Regions from separate parts of the Homo sapiens genome. Here region 2 is linked to region 1. The links come from fine-mapping of genetic effects on gene expression. Tissue or cell type: whole blood. Region 1 holds a variant in brackets; the other region holds the start of a gene. All regions are shown on one strand. Distances are from middle to middle.

The links. PIP is the estimated chance that this variant, and not a neighbour inherited with it, causes the effect.
Region 2: MTA2 starts here. The variant in region 1 is the best candidate, but not a certain one, in a credible set for the expression of MTA2 in whole blood (TOPMed, PIP 0.77).

Annotation. Positions count from the first base shown.
Region 1 is chr11:62,515,420-62,525,538 of GRCh38, reverse strand. It overlaps AHNAK (AHNAK nucleoprotein), which reads left to right. Exons shown (of 5, transcript NM_001620.3): 5 at 1-9,637. The coding sequence ends at 8,795. Among named protein-coding and RNA genes, the nearest start is that of AHNAK, 26 kb to the left of the region's middle. The variant C/T (reference allele first, on the strand shown) is at 2,135.
Region 2 is chr11:62,599,217-62,607,006 of GRCh38, reverse strand. MTA2 (metastasis associated 1 family member 2) reads left to right here and starts at 5,142. Exons shown (of 18, transcript NM_004739.4): 1 at 5,142-5,584; 2 at 6,318-6,385; 3 at 6,748-6,841. The coding sequence starts at 5,557. EML3 (EMAP like 3) reads left to right here. Exons shown (of 22, transcript NM_153265.3): 12 at 1-49; 13 at 793-944; 14 at 1,027-1,152; 15 at 1,234-1,365; 16 at 1,827-1,894; 17 at 2,806-2,894; 18 at 2,966-3,063; 19 at 3,191-3,278; 20 at 3,760-3,858; 21 at 4,118-4,248; 22 at 4,329-4,789. The coding sequence ends at 4,532. RefSeq lists enhancers at 3,429-4,138, 4,647-4,696, 6,077-6,126, 5,561-6,271 and silencers at 5,447-5,496, 5,567-5,666, 5,747-5,826.

The DNA of each region.
Region 1 (10,119 bases):
CCCCCAAGATCCCCATGCCTGACTTTGATTTGCATCTGAAAGGTCCCAAGGTGAAGGGCGATGTGGATATTTCTCTGCCCAAAGTGGAAGGTGACCTCAAGGGCCCTGAAGTTGACATCAGGGGTCCCCAAGTGGACATTGATGTCCCGGATGTGGGCGTTCAAGGCCCAGACTGGCACCTAAAAATGCCCAAAGTGAAAATGCCCAAATTCAGCATGCCTGGCTTCAAAGGAGAGGGCCCAGATGTGGATGTGAACCTGCCCAAGGCTGACCTTGATGTCTCAGGACCCAAGGTGGACATTGATGTTCCAGATGTGAATATCGAAGGCCCAGAGGGAAAGTTGAAAGGTCCCAAATTCAAAATGCCTGAGATGAACATCAAAGCCCCCAAGATCTCCATGCCTGACATTGATCTTAACCTGAAAGGTCCCAAAGTGAAGGGTGACATGGATGTGTCTCTGCCAAAAGTGGAAGGTGACATGAAAGTTCCTGACGTGGATATTAAAGGCCCCAAAGTGGATATTAATGCCCCAGATGTGGATGTTCAAGGCCCAGACTGGCACCTGAAGATGCCTAAAATAAAAATGCCCAAGATCAGCATGCCTGGCTTCAAAGGAGAAGGTCCAGAAGTGGACGTGAACCTGCCCAAGGCTGACCTTGACGTCTCAGGACCCAAGGTGGACGTTGATGTTCCAGATGTGAATATTGAAGGTCCAGATGCGAAACTGAAGGGCCCTAAATTCAAGATGCCAGAGATGAACATCAAAGCTCCTAAAATATCAATGCCTGATTTGGACCTCAATCTTAAAGGCCCTAAAATGAAAGGAGAGGTGGATGTTTCACTTGCAAATGTAGAAGGTGATTTGAAAGGACCTGCTCTTGACATAAAAGGCCCAAAGATAGATGTAGATGCTCCAGATATTGACATTCATGGCCCAGATGCCAAATTAAAAGGTCCAAAACTGAAGATGCCTGACATGCATGTAAACATGCCCAAGATCTCCATGCCAGAAATTGACTTGAATTTGAAAGGCTCAAAGCTTAAGGGAGATGTTGATGTCTCTGGGCCCAAGTTGGAAGGTGACATTAAAGCTCCCAGTTTGGATATAAAGGGCCCAGAAGTGGACGTTTCCGGTCCTAAGCTTAATATCGAAGGCAAGTCAAAGAAATCTCGTTTTAAGCTTCCCAAATTTAATTTTTCGGGCTCTAAAGTTCAGACACCTGAAGTGGATGTCAAAGGTAAAAAGCCAGATATTGACATAACAGGTCCAAAAGTTGATATTAATGCTCCTGATGTCGAGGTCCAAGGAAAAGTGAAAGGATCCAAGTTTAAAATGCCTTTCCTGAGTATTTCATCTCCCAAAGTTTCTATGCCTGACGTGGAGCTAAATTTGAAAAGTCCCAAAGTCAAAGGAGACTTAGATATTGCAGGTCCCAATTTAGAAGGTGACTTTAAAGGCCCCAAAGTGGATATTAAGGCACCAGAAGTCAATCTTAATGCACCTGATGTGGATGTTCATGGTCCAGACTGGAATCTGAAAATGCCCAAGATGAAAATGCCCAAATTCAGTGTGTCTGGCTTAAAAGCAGAAGGGCCAGATGTAGCTGTGGATCTACCAAAAGGAGACATCAACATAGAGGGCCCAAGTATGAACATTGAGGGCCCAGATCTCAATGTGGAAGGTCCGGAGGGAGGCTTGAAAGGTCCCAAATTCAAGATGCCTGACATGAATATCAAAGCTCCCAAGATCTCCATGCCTGACATTGACTTAAACTTGAAAGGCCCCAAGGTGAAAGGTGATGTGGATATTTCTCTTCCCAAACTTGAAGGGGATCTGAAAGGGCCAGAGGTTGATATCAAAGGCCCTAAAGTGGACATCAATGCCCCAGATGTGGATGTTCATGGTCCAGACTGGCATCTGAAGATGCCCAAAGTGAAAATGCCCAAGTTCAGCATGCCTGGCTTCAAAGGAGAAGGCCCTGAAGTCGATGTTACCCTCCCTAAAGCTGACATTGACATTTCTGGTCCCAATGTAGACGTTGATGTTCCAGACGTGAATATTGAAGGTCCAGATGCAAAGCTGAAGGGCCCCAAGTTCAAGATGCCTGAGATGAACATCAAAGCCCCCAAGAT[C/T]TCCATGCCTGACTTTGACCTGAACTTGAAGGGACCCAAAATGAAGGGTGATGTGGTTGTGTCTTTGCCCAAAGTGGAAGGTGATCTAAAAGGCCCTGAGGTGGACATCAAGGGCCCCAAAGTGGACATTGACACTCCTGACATTAACATCGAAGGCTCAGAGGGTAAATTCAAGGGACCCAAATTTAAGATACCAGAGATGCACCTGAAGGCTCCCAAAATATCGATGCCTGACATTGATTTAAACCTGAAGGGCCCCAAAGTCAAGGGCGATGTGGATGTTTCTCTGCCCAAAATGGAAGGTGACCTCAAGGGTCCTGAAGTTGACATCAAGGGCCCCAAAGTGGACATTAATGCTCCAGATGTTGATGTTCAAGGCCCAGACTGGCACCTGAAGATGCCCAAGGTGAAAATGCCCAAGTTCAGCATGCCTGGCTTCAAAGGAGAGGGCCCAGATGTGGATGTGAACCTGCCCAAGGCTGACCTTGATGTCTCAGGACCCAAGGTGGACATTGATGTTCCAGATGTGAATATCGAAGGCCCAGAGGGAAAGTTGAAAGGTCCCAAATTCAAGATGCCTGAGATGAACATCAAAGCCCCCAAGATCTCCATGCCTGACATTGATCTTAACCTGAAAGGACCCAAAGTGAAGGGTGATATGGATGTGTCTCTGCCAAAAGTGGAAGGTGACATGCAAGTTCCTGACTTGGATATTAAAGGCCCCAAAGTGGATATTAATGCCCCAGATGTGGATGTTCGAGGCCCAGACTGGCACCTGAAGATGCCTAAGATAAAAATGCCCAAGATCAGCATGCCTGGCTTCAAAGGAGAAGGTCCAGAAGTGGATGTGAACCTGCCCAAGGCTGACCTTGACGTCTCAGGACCCAAGGTGGACGTTGATGTTCCAGATGTGAATATTGAAGGTCCAGATGCGAAACTGAAGGGCCCTAAATTCAAGATGCCAGAGATGAACATCAAAGCCCCCAAGATCTCCATGCCTGACTTTGATTTGCATCTGAAAGGCCCTAAGGTGAAAGGAGATGTGGATGTTTCTCTGCCTAAGATGGAAGGTGATCTAAAGGCCCCTGAAGTTGACATCAAGGGCCCCAAAGTGGACATTGATGCCCCAGATGTGGATGTTCATGGCCCAGACTGGCACCTGAAGATGCCCAAGGTGAAAATGCCCAAATTCAGCATGCCAGGATTTAAAGGAGAGGGCCCAGAAGTGGATGTTAATTTGCCCAAAGCTGACATTGATGTCTCAGGACCCAAAGTGGACATTGACACTCCTGATATTGATATTCATGGTCCAGAAGGGAAACTGAAGGGCCCCAAATTTAAAATGCCTGACCTGCACCTCAAGGCACCGAAGATCTCTATGCCTGAAGTTGACCTGAATCTGAAAGGTCCAAAGATGAAGGGCGACGTGGACGTTTCTCTGCCCAAAGTGGAAGGCGACCTCAAGGGCCCTGAAGTTGACATCAAGGGCCCCAAAGTGGACATTGATGTCCCAGATGTGGACGTTCAAGGCCCAGACTGGCACTTAAAAATGCCCAAAGTGAAAATGCCCAAGTTCAGCATGCCTGGCTTCAAAGGAGAGGGCCCAGATGTGGATGTGAACCTGCCCAAGGCTGACCTTGACGTCTCAGGACCCAAGGTGGACATTGATGTTCCTGATGTGAATATCGAAGGTCCAGATGCGAAACTAAAGGGCCCTAAATTCAAGATGCCTGAGATGAACATCAAAGCCCCCAAGATCTCCATGCCTGACTTTGATTTGCATCTGAAAGGTCCCAAGGTGAAGGGTGATGTGGATGTTTCCCTTCCTAAAGTGGAAGGTGACCTCAAGGGCCCAGAAGTTGACATCAAGGGCCCCAAAGTGGACATCGATGCCCCTGATGTAGATGTTCATGGCCCAGACTGGCACCTGAAGATGCCCAAGGTGAAAATGCCCAAATTCAGCATGCCAGGATTCAAAGGAGAGGGCCCAGATGTGGATGTTACCCTTCCTAAGGCTGACATTGAGATTTCTGGCCCCAAAGTGGACATTGATGCCCCTGATGTCAGTATCGAAGGTCCAGATGCAAAACTCAAGGGTCCAAAGTTCAAGATGCCAGAGATGAACATCAAGGCCCCCAAAATCTCCATGCCTGACATTGACTTTAACTTGAAGGGTCCCAAAGTGAAAGGTGATGTGGATGTCTCTCTGCCCAAAGTGGAAGGTGATCTCAAGGGCCCTGAAATTGACATAAAAGGCCCCAGTTTGGACATTGACACACCTGATGTCAATATTGAAGGTCCGGAAGGAAAATTGAAGGGGCCCAAATTTAAGATGCCTGAGATGAACATCAAAGCTCCCAAAATCTCTATGCCTGACTTTGATTTGCACCTGAAAGGTCCCAAGGTGAAGGGTGATGTGGATGTTTCACTACCTAAGGTGGAAAGTGATCTGAAAGGGCCAGAGGTAGACATTGAAGGTCCTGAAGGGAAGCTCAAAGGTCCCAAGTTTAAGATGCCTGATGTACATTTCAAAAGCCCACAAATCTCCATGAGTGACATTGATTTGAATTTGAAAGGACCTAAGATAAAAGGAGATATGGACATTTCCGTTCCTAAACTGGAGGGAGATCTGAAAGGTCCCAAAGTGGATGTCAAAGGCCCTAAAGTGGGCATTGACACTCCTGATATTGACATTCATGGTCCAGAAGGGAAACTGAAGGGCCCCAAATTTAAAATGCCTGACTTACACCTCAAGGCACCGAAGATCTCTATGCCTGAAGTTGACCTGAATCTGAAAGGTCCAAAGGTGAAGGGCGACATGGACATTTCTCTGCCCAAAGTGGAAGGCGACCTCAAGGGCCCCGAAGTTGACATCAGGGACCCCAAAGTGGACATTGATGTCCCAGATGTGGACGTTCAAGGCCCAGACTGGCACCTAAAAATGCCCAAAGTGAAAATGCCCAAGTTCAGCATGCCTGGCTTCAAAGGAGAGGGCCCAGATGTGGATGTGAACCTGCCCAAGGCTGACATTGATGTCTCAGGACCCAAAGTGGACGTTGATGTTCCTGATGTGAATATCGAAGGTCCAGATGCGAAACTAAAGGGCCCCAAGTTCAAGATGCCTGAGATGAGCATCAAAGCCCCCAAGATCTCCATGCCTGATATTGACTTAAACCTGAAAGGACCCAAAGTGAAGGGCGATGTGGATGTTACCCTTCCTAAAGTGGAAGGTGACCTCAAGGGCCCAGAAGCTGACATCAAGGGCCCAAAAGTGGACATCAACACCCCTGATGTGGATGTTCATGGCCCAGACTGGCACCTGAAGATGCCCAAGGTGAAAATGCCCAAATTCAGCATGCCTGGCTTCAAAGGAGAAGGTCCAGATGTGGATGTGAGCCTGCCCAAGGCCGACATCGATGTCTCGGGACCCAAGGTGGACGTTGATATTCCAGATGTGAATATCGAAGGTCCAGACGCAAAACTGAAGGGCCCCAAGTTCAAGATGCCTGAAATAAATATCAAAGCTCCCAAGATCTCCATACCTGATGTTGACCTGGATTTGAAAGGACCCAAAGTAAAAGGAGATTTTGATGTGTCTGTCCCTAAGGTTGAAGGGACTTTGAAAGGCCCAGAAGTAGATCTTAAAGGTCCACGTCTGGATTTCGAAGGCCCTGATGCCAAACTCAGTGGCCCATCTTTGAAGATGCCATCGCTGGAGATATCTGCTCCTAAAGTAACTGCTCCTGATGTTGATTTGCATCTCAAGGCACCAAAAATTGGATTTTCAGGTCCGAAGTTAGAAGGTGGTGAAGTGGACCTCAAGGGACCCAAAGTTGAAGCTCCAAGCTTAGATGTACACATGGACAGCCCAGATATTAACATCGAAGGGCCAGATGTTAAAATCCCCAAATTTAAGAAACCCAAGTTTGGATTTGGGGCAAAAAGCCCCAAAGCTGACATCAAGTCACCTTCACTGGATGTCACTGTTCCTGAGGCAGAGCTGAACCTTGAGACTCCTGAAATTAGTGTTGGTGGCAAGGGCAAGAAAAGTAAGTTTAAAATGCCTAAAATTCATATGAGTGGTCCTAAGATTAAGGCCAAAAAACAGGGATTTGACCTGAATGTTCCTGGGGGTGAAATTGATGCCAGCCTCAAGGCTCCGGATGTAGATGTCAACATCGCAGGGCCGGATGCTGCACTCAAAGTCGACGTGAAATCGCCCAAAACCAAGAAAACGATGTTTGGAAAAATGTACTTCCCAGATGTAGAGTTTGACATTAAATCACCTAAATTTAAAGCTGAGGCCCCTCTCCCTAGCCCCAAACTGGAGGGTGAACTCCAGGCACCTGATCTGGAACTTTCTTTGCCAGCGATTCACGTCGAAGGTCTTGACATCAAGGCGAAGGCTCCCAAGGTCAAGATGCCAGATGTGGACATCTCAGTGCCAAAAATAGAGGGTGACCTGAAAGGCCCCAAAGTGCAGGCAAACTTGGGTGCACCTGACATCAACATCGAAGGCCTAGATGCTAAAGTCAAAACACCGTCCTTCGGCATTTCTGCCCCTCAAGTCTCCATCCCTGATGTGAATGTAAACTTGAAAGGACCAAAGATAAAGGGTGATGTCCCCAGCGTGGGACTGGAAGGACCAGATGTAGATCTGCAAGGTCCAGAAGCAAAAATTAAGTTCCCCAAGTTTTCCATGCCCAAGATCGGCATCCCAGGTGTGAAAATGGAGGGTGGGGGAGCCGAGGTCCATGCCCAGCTACCCTCTCTTGAAGGAGACTTGAGAGGACCAGATGTTAAGCTCGAAGGGCCCGATGTTTCTCTAAAGGGGCCAGGAGTAGACTTGCCTTCAGTGAACCTCTCTATGCCAAAAGTCTCTGGGCCTGACCTTGATCTGAACTTGAAAGGACCAAGTTTGAAGGGAGACCTGGATGCATCTGTTCCCAGCATGAAGGTGCATGCTCCAGGGCTCAACCTCAGTGGTGTCGGTGGCAAAATGCAGGTGGGAGGAGACGGTGTGAAAGTGCCAGGGATCGATGCCACAACAAAGCTTAACGTTGGGGCACCAGATGTGACACTGAGGGGACCAAGCCTGCAGGGAGATCTGGCTGTCTCTGGTGACATCAAATGCCCTAAAGTATCCGTAGGAGCTCCTGATCTAAGCTTGGAGGCATCCGAAGGCAGCATTAAACTTCCCAAAATGAAGCTGCCCCAATTTGGCATCTCTACTCCGGGGTCCGACTTGCACGTCAATGCCAAGGGGCCACAGGTTTCTGGCGAACTGAAGGGGCCAGGTGTGGATGTGAACCTGAAAGGGCCTCGGATTTCAGCACCGAATGTGGACTTTAACTTGGAAGGACCAAAAGTGAAAGGGAGCCTTGGGGCCACTGGTGAGATCAAAGGCCCCACTGTCGGAGGAGGTCTTCCAGGCATTGGTGTTCAAGGCCTAGAAGGAAACCTCCAGATGCCTGGAATTAAGTCCTCTGGATGTGATGTGAACCTGCCAGGCGTGAATGTGAAACTCCCAACTGGGCAGATTTCTGGGCCTGAAATCAAAGGTGGTCTGAAAGGTTCAGAAGTAGGTTTCCATGGGGCTGCTCCTGATATCAGTGTGAAGGGGCCTGCCTTTAATATGGCATCTCCTGAGTCAGATTTTGGCATCAACTTGAAGGGCCCAAAAATCAAAGGAGGTGCGGATGTTTCAGGGGGTGTCAGTGCCCCAGACATCAGCCTTGGTGAAGGGCATTTGAGTGTTAAAGGTTCCGGGGGTGAGTGGAAGGGACCCCAAGTCTCCTCTGCTCTCAACTTGGACACATCTAAGTTTGCTGGGGGCCTTCATTTCTCAGGACCAAAGGTGGAAGGAGGTGTGAAAGGAGGTCAGATTGGACTCCAGGCTCCTGGGCTGAGTGTGTCTGGGCCTCAAGGTCACTTGGAAAGTGGATCTGGAAAAGTAACATTCCCTAAAATGAAGATCCCCAAATTTACCTTCTCTGGCCGTGAGCTGGTTGGCAGAGAAATGGGGGTGGATGTTCACTTCCCTAAAGCAGAGGCCAGCATCCAAGCTGGTGCTGGAGACGGCGAGTGGGAAGAGTCTGAAGTCAAACTGAAAAAGTCCAAGATCAAAATGCCCAAGTTTAATTTTTCCAAACCTAAAGGGAAAGGTGGTGTCACTGGCTCACCAGAAGCATCAATTTCTGGGTCCAAAGGTGACCTGAAAAGTTCAAAGGCCAGCCTGGGCTCTCTGGAAGGAGAGGCAGAGGCCGAAGCCTCTTCACCGAAAGGCAAATTCTCCTTATTTAAAAGTAAGAAGCCACGGCACCGCTCAAATTCATTCAGTGATGAAAGAGAGTTCTCTGGACCTTCCACCCCGACGGGGACGCTGGAGTTTGAAGGTGGGGAAGTGTCTCTGGAAGGTGGGAAAGTTAAAGGGAAACACGGGAAGCTGAAATTCGGTACCTTTGGTGGATTGGGGTCAAAGAGCAAAGGTCATTATGAGGTGACTGGGAGCGATGATGAGACAGGCAAGTTACAGGGGAGTGGGGTGTCCCTGGCCTCTAAGAAGTCCCGACTGTCCTCCTCTTCTAGCAATGACAGTGGGAATAAGGTTGGCATCCAGCTTCCCGAGGTGGAGCTGTCAGTTTCCACAAAGAAAGAGTAGCAGGCCTTTGTATGTGTGTACATATATATATATATAACAAAACATCAGCCTTGGGTGGTGTGTTCCTATATAAACTCCAAAGGGAAACACACCGACTGCCTCAGCAATCATGCAAAGACCTTGCCTGGCCCGGTGGCAAGCGCTGAAAAACCGACCGCCTGTAGGCTCCTGGAACTATACAGATAGGTAAAGAGTTCCAAGTTCGTCCAGCCCATGTGCAAAGTCAACAGTATTTGCCTTAAGATTTCATATATATATATTTTTTTGCATTGACTGCTGAGAGCTCCTGTTTACTAAGCAAGCTTTTGTGTTTATTATCCTCATTTTTACTGAACATTGTTAGTTTTGGGGTAATGGAAACCCACTTTTTCATTGTAATGACTTTGGGGGCTTTTGTTAGTAAGGGTGGGTGGGGTGATGGGTTGCAGACGGAGGTCAGGTCTTCCTCTTTCCTGAGACTGGATCTGTTCAAACAGCAAACGCCCACAGATGGCCCAGAGGTGGTGGTAGTCAGGGTGTGTGGGTGTTTTTAGGGTTCTTTAGTGTTGTTTCTTTCACCCAGGGGTGGTGGTCCCAGCCAGTTTGGTGCTGACGGTGAGAGGAAATTAGAATCTGTTTGCAAATTGTCCAACCCACCCCCTCAACATGAGGGGCTTCCATTTTCTGTGTTTTGTAAGGGAACTGTTTCCTTCATGCCGCCATGTTCCTGATATTAGTTCTGATTTCTTTTTAACAAATGTTATCATGATTAAGAAAATTTCCAGCACTTTAATGGCCAATTAACTGAGAATGTAAGAAAATTGATGCTGTACAAGGCAAATAAAGCTGTTTATTAACCTTGATGTCTTGTGCCTTTGCATTCTGTGTTGCGGGGGCGTGAAACCTGGGGAAGCTGCACAGCCAGCTGTGAGTGTTCAGACCGGATCCATCTGGTGGCATTGCTAGTTTCATCAGTGACTTTAAGACAGTGACCTTCGGGAGGTAGTGGGAGAAAATCTTTGCTTCTTGATTCTCATGGTGAGGCTGGTTGTGCCATTGCTGAGAAATCAAGAAGAGGCTTGGCCTCGGGACCCACTCACCTACTTTGCATCCTCACATATGAATATACAATTCAGAATTGGTTCTAAATGGGTTACAGATGTGAACAGTTAAAAGGCCTCCTGGAATTACCGAAAGGGCTCTGCTTGTGAATCACCGCTCTGCCATTTATTCCTGACATGGCTGCAGGTTTGCTGAGTAACCGCTGTTGCCCAGGCTGGAGTGCAGTGGCACAATCTTGGCTCACTGCAACCTCCTCCTCCTGGGTTCAAGCGATTTTCCTGCC
Region 2 (7,790 bases), 83 kb before region 1:
GGGCGGAGCCCTTCAGATTCCAAGACCCCAGGCAGGGGTGGCGCCAAAGGTATGTGGCTGGGAGGGGCATCTGGGAAGTGTAGTACTCCAGAGGTTCTGTGGGAACAGAGGAGAGGGTTTCCCATTCCCATCTTTTTTTTTTTTTTTTTTGAGATGAGGTCTTACTCTGTTGCCCAGGCTGGATTGCAGTGGCGCGATCTTGGTTCACTGCAACCTCTGCCTTCCAGGTTCAAGTGATCCTCCTTCCTCAGTCTCCCAAGTAGCTGGAAGTACAGGCACACGCCACCACGCCCAGCTAATTTTTGTATTTTTAGTAGAGATGGGGTTTTGCCATGTTGGCCAGGCTGGTCTCGAATTCCTGACCTCAGGTGATCCGCCCGCCTTGGCCTCCCAAAGTGCTGGGATTACAGGCGTGAGCCACGGCGCCCAGCCAGGTTTCCCACCTTTTTACCTTGAGAGTTGATAGTTCTCTTGGGGGCTAGTCTAGAAGCGTGTGGGCAGCACAGCAAAGGAGAAACGGCTGGAGCTTTGTGTTTGCCAGATCTCAGGTTCAGATTCCAGTTTTGCTATTAGTTGCCTTGCCTTTAGGAAGTTACCTCATTTCTGTGAGTCTCAGTTGTCCTGTTTGTAAAATGGGGAGAATAACAGATGTGTTGGCAGTATGAGGATGAGACATAGTAGTCAGTGCATGCAATGGCTGGGAGTTCTTACTGTATTGCGACAGCCAAGCTGGCCCTGTTTCTCACTCCCCTGCACCCCCAAAACATGATCTACCTGGGGCTTTGCCAACAGAGACCTATGGGATTGTGGCCCAGGCTCACGCTCATGAAGGTTCTATCTTCGCCTTGTGTCTCCGGAGGGACGGGACAGTGCTGAGTGGTGGCGGGCGGGACCGCCGGCTGGTACAGTGGGGGCCCGGGTTGGTGGCCCTCCAGGAGGCTGAGGTGAGGGCTGGGCTGGGGTCAAGGGAGTGAGGGAGAAGAGCAATAGTCAGTGGGCTCTTGACATTCTGCTACCACTCTGCAGATTCCCGAGCACTTCGGGGCCGTGCGAGCCATTGCTGAAGGGCTTGGCTCTGAGCTGCTGGTGGGAACCACGAAGAATGCATTGCTGAGGGGAGACCTGGCCCAGGGCTTCTCCCCTGTAATCCAGGTTGGGGGTTAAGGGCTCAGGGGAGGAAGGGACAAAGGGGTGTGAGAGAGGGGCAGGAGTGACAGTCATGCTGTGCTGCAGGGCCACACTGATGAGCTCTGGGGGCTCTGCACACACCCCTCCCAGAACCGCTTCCTCACCTGCGGCCACGACCGGCAGCTCTGCCTGTGGGATGGGGAGAGCCATGCACTGGCCTGGAGCATCGACCTCAAGGTAGAGCCCTGTGCCCCTGGATCCCCCATGCCACACCCACCAGGACACCTGTGGCCACCACGCCTTCCCCAGCACCTTGCCTTCTGCCTCCCAGAGGTGGCCAGTTTGTACTGGTATGGCTGCACTGGCTACTCAAATATTAATTTTTCTGTACTGACTGGTAAAAGCTGATGCTTCTAGTACCACCTGGGCACTCCCTGCCGCCCCCAGAACCCCTCAGACTTCCTCTTGATCCAGCACCTAAATGGTTAATCTCCAGCACAGCTATTGGCATCAGTTCTGTGGTTAAATATTTTGGTATCACTCCCTGTTCAGGCTCCAGTGATACCCGGGTATCCCTTCCCTCTCTTCCCATCTTCTCCTTGGGAGTAAGTGGCTTTGAAGTTAGGAGGACAAGGGGTTCACTCTGGTTCCCTCACTAGAAAGACATCATCTTGAATTCACCTTCTCCCCTCTCCCAGGAGACTGGTCTCTGTGCTGACTTCCACCCGAGTGGGGCAGTTGTGGCCGTAGGACTGAACACGGGGAGGTGAGAGAGAGCCAGGACTCCCAGGAGGGAAAGCAGGGAGGACTGGGAAGGGTTCCTGGTACTGGGGGAGTGGGCGAGAGTGACCACCTCTACCCAGGAGCCACCTGCGCCTTGGCACTCCTCTGTGCCTCTCCCTGCAGCCCCTGCCACCCGGGCTCCCCTCCTCTTCTGTGGTAACTGTTTCTCCCCCTCCCCCAACCCAGTGTCTCCTCCAAGCCTGGGAGTGGAGGAGGCAGCAGCCCAGGATAGAGAAACAGTGGGAATGGGAGGGGCATAGACAAACACAGGGAAGTGACAGGCTTCCAGCTTGCACAGTGCCTTTGTAGTCGGCCCCTGGTCTGTAGTTTCAGATTACTTTTTCAGACGACATCAGAAGCCCCTCAGCCTTTATCCACACTTAGCTCCTTCCCATTTCTCAGCATAAGAATGCAGTGGTGGCCAGGTGCGGTGGCTCACGCCTGTAATCCTAGCGCTTTGGGAGCTGAGGCGGGTGGATCACTTGAGGTCAGGAGTTCAAGACCAGCCTGGCCAACATGGTGAAACCTCGTCTCCACTAAAAATACAAAAATTAGACGGGCATGGTGGTACGCACCTGTAATTCTAGCTACTCAGGAGGCTGAGGCATGAGAATCACTTGAACCCAGGAGGTGGAGGTTGCGTTGAGATCTTGCCACTGCACTCCAGCCTGGGTGACAGAGTGAGACTCTGTCTCAAAACAACAACAACAACAACAACAAACTAAAAAAGAAGAATGCAGTTGTGACCTGTCTTCTACATCAGAGCCTTTCTGTGTGTGTCTCTGAGCTTCTCTTATTTGCCATCCCCAAGCCTACCCAGGGTGGCCTCCCTGGGGGTCTCCTTACATCCTGCCTTTTCGTCTTCCTATCTGCCTCCACTTCCCTCCCTTCCAGGTGGTTGGTTTTGGACACAGAGACCAGAGAGATCGTGTCTGATGTCATTGATGGCAATGAGCAGCTCTCAGTGGTCCGGTACAGCCCAGGTGGGAGCCACCCCAACCCTGGACTCACATGCGTCCCTGGCCCTTCCCTCTCTGAGTGACTGTATTTGCAGATGGGTTGTACCTGGCCATTGGTTCCCATGACAACGTGATCTACATCTATAGTGTTTCCAGTGATGGTGCCAAATCCAGCCGCTTTGGCCGCTGTATGGTGAGGAAGTTGGGGTGTGTGGTGGGGCATGATAACAGCTGCGAAACTCAGGGGTCTGATGCATCAAGGGGGCTCTGGGGATGGGAAATGGATGGGATACTTTAAAACTCTTGACCTTTGCTCCCAGGGTCACTCCAGCTTCATCACTCATCTTGACTGGTCCAAGGATGGGAATTTCATCATGTCCAATTCTGGGGACTATGAGATTCTTTACTGTGAGTGGCAGTGGAGCAGGACATGGGGAGAGGGTAATTGGAGTGGGTTTTGTGTAGGGGGGGCTGTTAGAGGTGTTGTTAGATAAGGAAGTGGAGATGGGGTTAAAGTGGAGTTGGAATTATATGTAGGAGAAATTTCGTGATTTGGAAACAACTAGTTTCACACCATGTCTTGTTGACTTGAGGGAGTTCAAAAATGCGCTAAGAAAAGATTGTTTGGGAAAAGTTTCTCAGGGCAAGTGTGGAGCACTTGACTTATCTAGGGAGGAGGAACTCGTGGAAGCTGTTAGAACTTCAGCCAGAGCTCAGGACAGGACGCACACAGGGTGGGTTTCACAGGGGGAGGAGGTGATGCTACTACGGTGACCAGATCACATGCCATCGCCGGGTTTCATGCCAGTCTTTCCAGTCTGGCTTTCCCTGGCATCTTCCCTACTGAGGGCAGGGTGAGAGCTGAGCTGGGCGGGCTCCCTCTCCCCAGGGGACGTGGCTGGAGGCTGCAAGCAGCTGAAGAATCGCTATGAGAGCCGAGACCGGGAATGGGCTACCTACACCTGTGTGCTGGGCTTTCACGTCTACGGTGAGCAGGGGCGTGGAAACCTGCTGGAAGGGTGGGGGACAAGGTGGAGCCCAGTTTGGGCTTGGAACGCTGGGCGTGTGTCGTTGGGTGAGAGTCCAGAAACCTGAAGATCCAGCCCAGGAGGCCCCTCGGGACCGGGAAGGCTTGCCTGGAACGCGGCAGTGGGTGGCCGCGGCTGCCGGAGCGCCTGAAATGGTGTAGCTCTGGGCCGTGGGTGGCGGTGGGTAGGAGGTCGGGCTGAGGCCGGCCGCTGTGCTAGGCGTCTGGCCGGACGGCTCCGATGGGACCGACATCAACTCCCTGTGCCGCTCCCACAACGAGCGCGTGGTGGCGGTGGCCGACGACTTCTGCAAAGTGCATCTCTTCCAGTACCCGTGCGCTCGTGCCAAGGTGAGGCCGCGGGGATCGCCGGGGTGGGACCGGTGGGCCCGAGGGCTCAGCCGCCACCGCAACTCTTCCCTCCGGCCCAGGCGCCGAGCCGCATGTACGGGGGCCACGGCAGCCACGTGACCAGCGTCCGATTCACGCACGACGACTCGCACCTCGTCTCGCTGGGCGGCAAGGACGCCAGCATCTTCCAGTGGCGAGTGCTGGGCGCTGGGGGCGCGGGGCCGGCGCCCGCCACGCCCTCTCGAACCCCCTCCCTGTCCCCCGCCTCCTCCCTCGACGTTTGATCGCTGCCTGGCGGGACCGACTGGCCCGGCGGCGTGGCCCCGCCCCGCCCTGCCCTTCCCTGGCCCAATCCCCCACGACTAGGGGCCGACTCTTTCCTGGACTGACTTCGAGACATTCCCGATCGCGCATTTTCCTGGAGGGCGCGAACGGCGCCCCTGCACACACTGTTTAGACCCGCTGGCTGAGCCGGGCAGCCCCAGCCTAGGCCTTGACTCCCGCTGCCTGCTGAGGGGCAATAAACCAGAACCAAAGTCGCCTCCCGGTGCTTTTGTGGGGCGCTGCCGGGCGCCTCCGGGGCTCTGTGGGGTGGGGACGAAGGAAAAGAGGCGTGCGGAAAGGGTAAGGGAGCGTAGACCATTTATGCAAATGACAGGCAAAGCCGCTTGCAAATAACCTGGCGAAGCGCTAAGGCGCGCGAGTCTTTGGGGCGCGAGGAGGAGCTGCAGGGCTCCAGCGAGGACAGAGTTAAGCCCGACTCCTCTCCCGCCCTCGGAAAAGGGGGTGGGGCCGAGCTGCGACGGAAATAGCCGAGCGGTTGCCCGACAGGAGCCGAACTTCTTCCGGAAGTAGCCGATCTGCGGGGTCTCGCTCTCCGACCTGAGCCGAGCAGTGGGCCTTGTTCTCCGGATCGGCCGAAGGTGTTCCGGAAGGAGGCGAACCCTGAGGCGGGCCCGGCAAGCCTTCCCTGCGGCCGGCAGAGCCCAACGACTAGTGGGACTCCGCGGGGGCGGGGGTAGCTGGAGCCTGGCTCTGGCCTGGCAGGAGCCGAGCTCGTTCCGGAAGAAGCCGAGCGGACGGGGGCCAGCCTCAGCGTCCCGGGAGTGAGGCGATAGCTGCGGCGGCGACAGCGCGGGCCGGGATGAACCGCGACGGCTGAGGCAGCGGAGGTGCCGGCTGCGCGGGCCCCAGTGAGACTCCCTCGAAGCGGCAGCCCACCGTTCGGGGCTTTGCCTCGAGCCGAGCCCTGCCCCCGCGAGCCTCCCGGACCCCTTTGTGCGGCCGGAGGCGGCGGCGGGAACGGCCATGGCGGCCAACATGTACCGGGTGGGAGGTGAGTACCGGGCGCAGGGATACGGGGCCCGGGGCGGGAGAGGTTGGGGTAGGGACCTGAGGGGCTCGGCACCGGGTGGCGCGAGGCGCAGCGTATGGGGCAGCGTGGACCGGAGCGCGGACCGGAACCGGAACCGGGAGACGAGGAGAGAGGGTGCGGGGAACCGCGACGCGGCAGGGCTCCGAGACTCCCAGAGAGAAGCTGCGGGCAGCCCCGACGGCACTTTCGGGGCTGCGTCAGGGGCTCCCCGGGGCACGGAGTGGCCTTCGGAACCGGTTCCGAAGGAGCTGACAGGGTAGGGAGGGAACGCGAGGGGCTGGGGCGACGGCTTTGCCACCGCGGGGGAGCCGCCCGGAGGTTTCCTCTTCCCAGGCGTTATTGTGCGCCTCGATTCGAAAAGGTAGGGGCCCTGCGCTAGAGCGGACAATTACTTCGCCGCGACTGGGGTGCAACTCATCGCTGAGTTGTGGGGACTGCAGGGGAACCCCTGCTTCTTGCCTGTTCCTTAAGGCTCTCTTTTGAGTAAAGGATCTAATTTTAGAACTAGGTGCGGTGGGGATGGGGGACATCCTTATTTTCTCTTAGTCTGTCCACTTTCACATCTCAGCGCCCTTTCTACCTGAATCCTTATCTCCTTTTGATCCACTCAGGCCAACTTTCTCTCCTACCCTGGTGCTCTGCGTCTCCCATCTCCTCTGATCTTCGTGGTTCTCCCCCCTCCCTTCCCTTACAGATTACGTCTATTTTGAGAACTCTTCCAGCAATCCTTACCTGGTTAGACGGATTGAGGAGCTCAACAAGGTGAGTGGAGCAGAATCCCTCTCCCTCCCTCCCGCAGTGGTCTCTTCTGAGGTTTCTAACTTCTGGTGGAAGAGAGGATCCTATACTAAGTACCCATTCATATTCGTTCATTCATTCATTGGATGTATTCAGGAAAGGCTATTGAGAGGTTAGCAGGAACTTTACTATTCTGTCTCTTGGGGGCAAAGGAAAGGGATTTGGAAGTCTATCCTTGAATGTAAGTCTTTACTCATATTTTCTTGGGCTTTTTAATTTAGGTCCCTCTGAAACTTACTGTTATTTGTCTCTTTGTGCATTTCTGTTCCCAGATGATCAATTTCCACTGCTACGTTGTTTTGTTTTTGTTTTTTTCCTCCCCTTAGACTGCAAATGGAAATGTGGAGGCAAAGGTTGTCTGTCTTTTCCGGCGCAGGGACATTTCTAGTAGCCTCAACAGCCTGGCTGATAGTAATGCCAGTGAGTATCTTCCTCCCTTTCTTTTTCTCCTACCCATGATCTGAGGCCTGGGCATGTCCCTGCAGGTATTTCCCCTGGTAGCATGCCCAAGGCAGAGGTGTGAGTTTGGGGGTGGGAAATGCCTGGCCTGAGGAGGGAGGCCTGTTTTTACATGTTGGGGTTGGAAGCAGGGTGGAGAGATTGTGATAAGGAAAGCGATAATATGGTTTGTATATGAGAGTAAGAGAGAGATGATAACATTTAGAGTATGAGGACGAGCTTTAGAGAAACAATGGTTTTCTAAAGGGGGGCAGTTTGGGGTACATTGAGACAGTAGGTGATGACTGAAGGTCAACGTGAAGAGGAAGACATTGTACTGAGAAGCCTGCGTAACAGAGAAGCAGGCTTATTTTGTAATCACAAGGTGATGAGAGTACCTGGAAGTTAGAAGATGGCTGGAAGTTTTCTTGCGCTTTTTAATTTCTCACCTCGCCCATTTCCCCGCCCGCCCCCCTCCATTTTACATCTTTCCCTTTTCATTTTGCCCTATCTTCATTCTCTTTAAGGTCTCATCTTCTTTTTTTAAAAAACATATTTTCCTTAGCTTCTTTTTCCTTTCCTGCTTTGGTTTTCTTTTTCCTTCCTTTTGTTCCACCTTTCTAAATTATTTTCCTTTTTCAGACTGCTCTGGGTGAGAAGGGGTTAAAGAGGAGCCCAGCTTACCAAGTTCCTTGGCCCTTTAGGGTTTCCAGCCCCATCTGGCAGGGGCTGACCTTGGCCTTGTCCAATCAGAAGGGGTGTTGGGGGTGTGGTCCCCCTTGCCTCAGCACAGGGTTTCCGGAGCACACAAGCGAGGGGTGGAGCCTACTGCACAACCCCCCCCTTCTCCCTGAGGTTGGGAACAATACACCAATGAGCCTGGGGCTGAGGTTCTTCTGCTCCCTCCCACTTTGGTTGGCGCCTAGCCAGG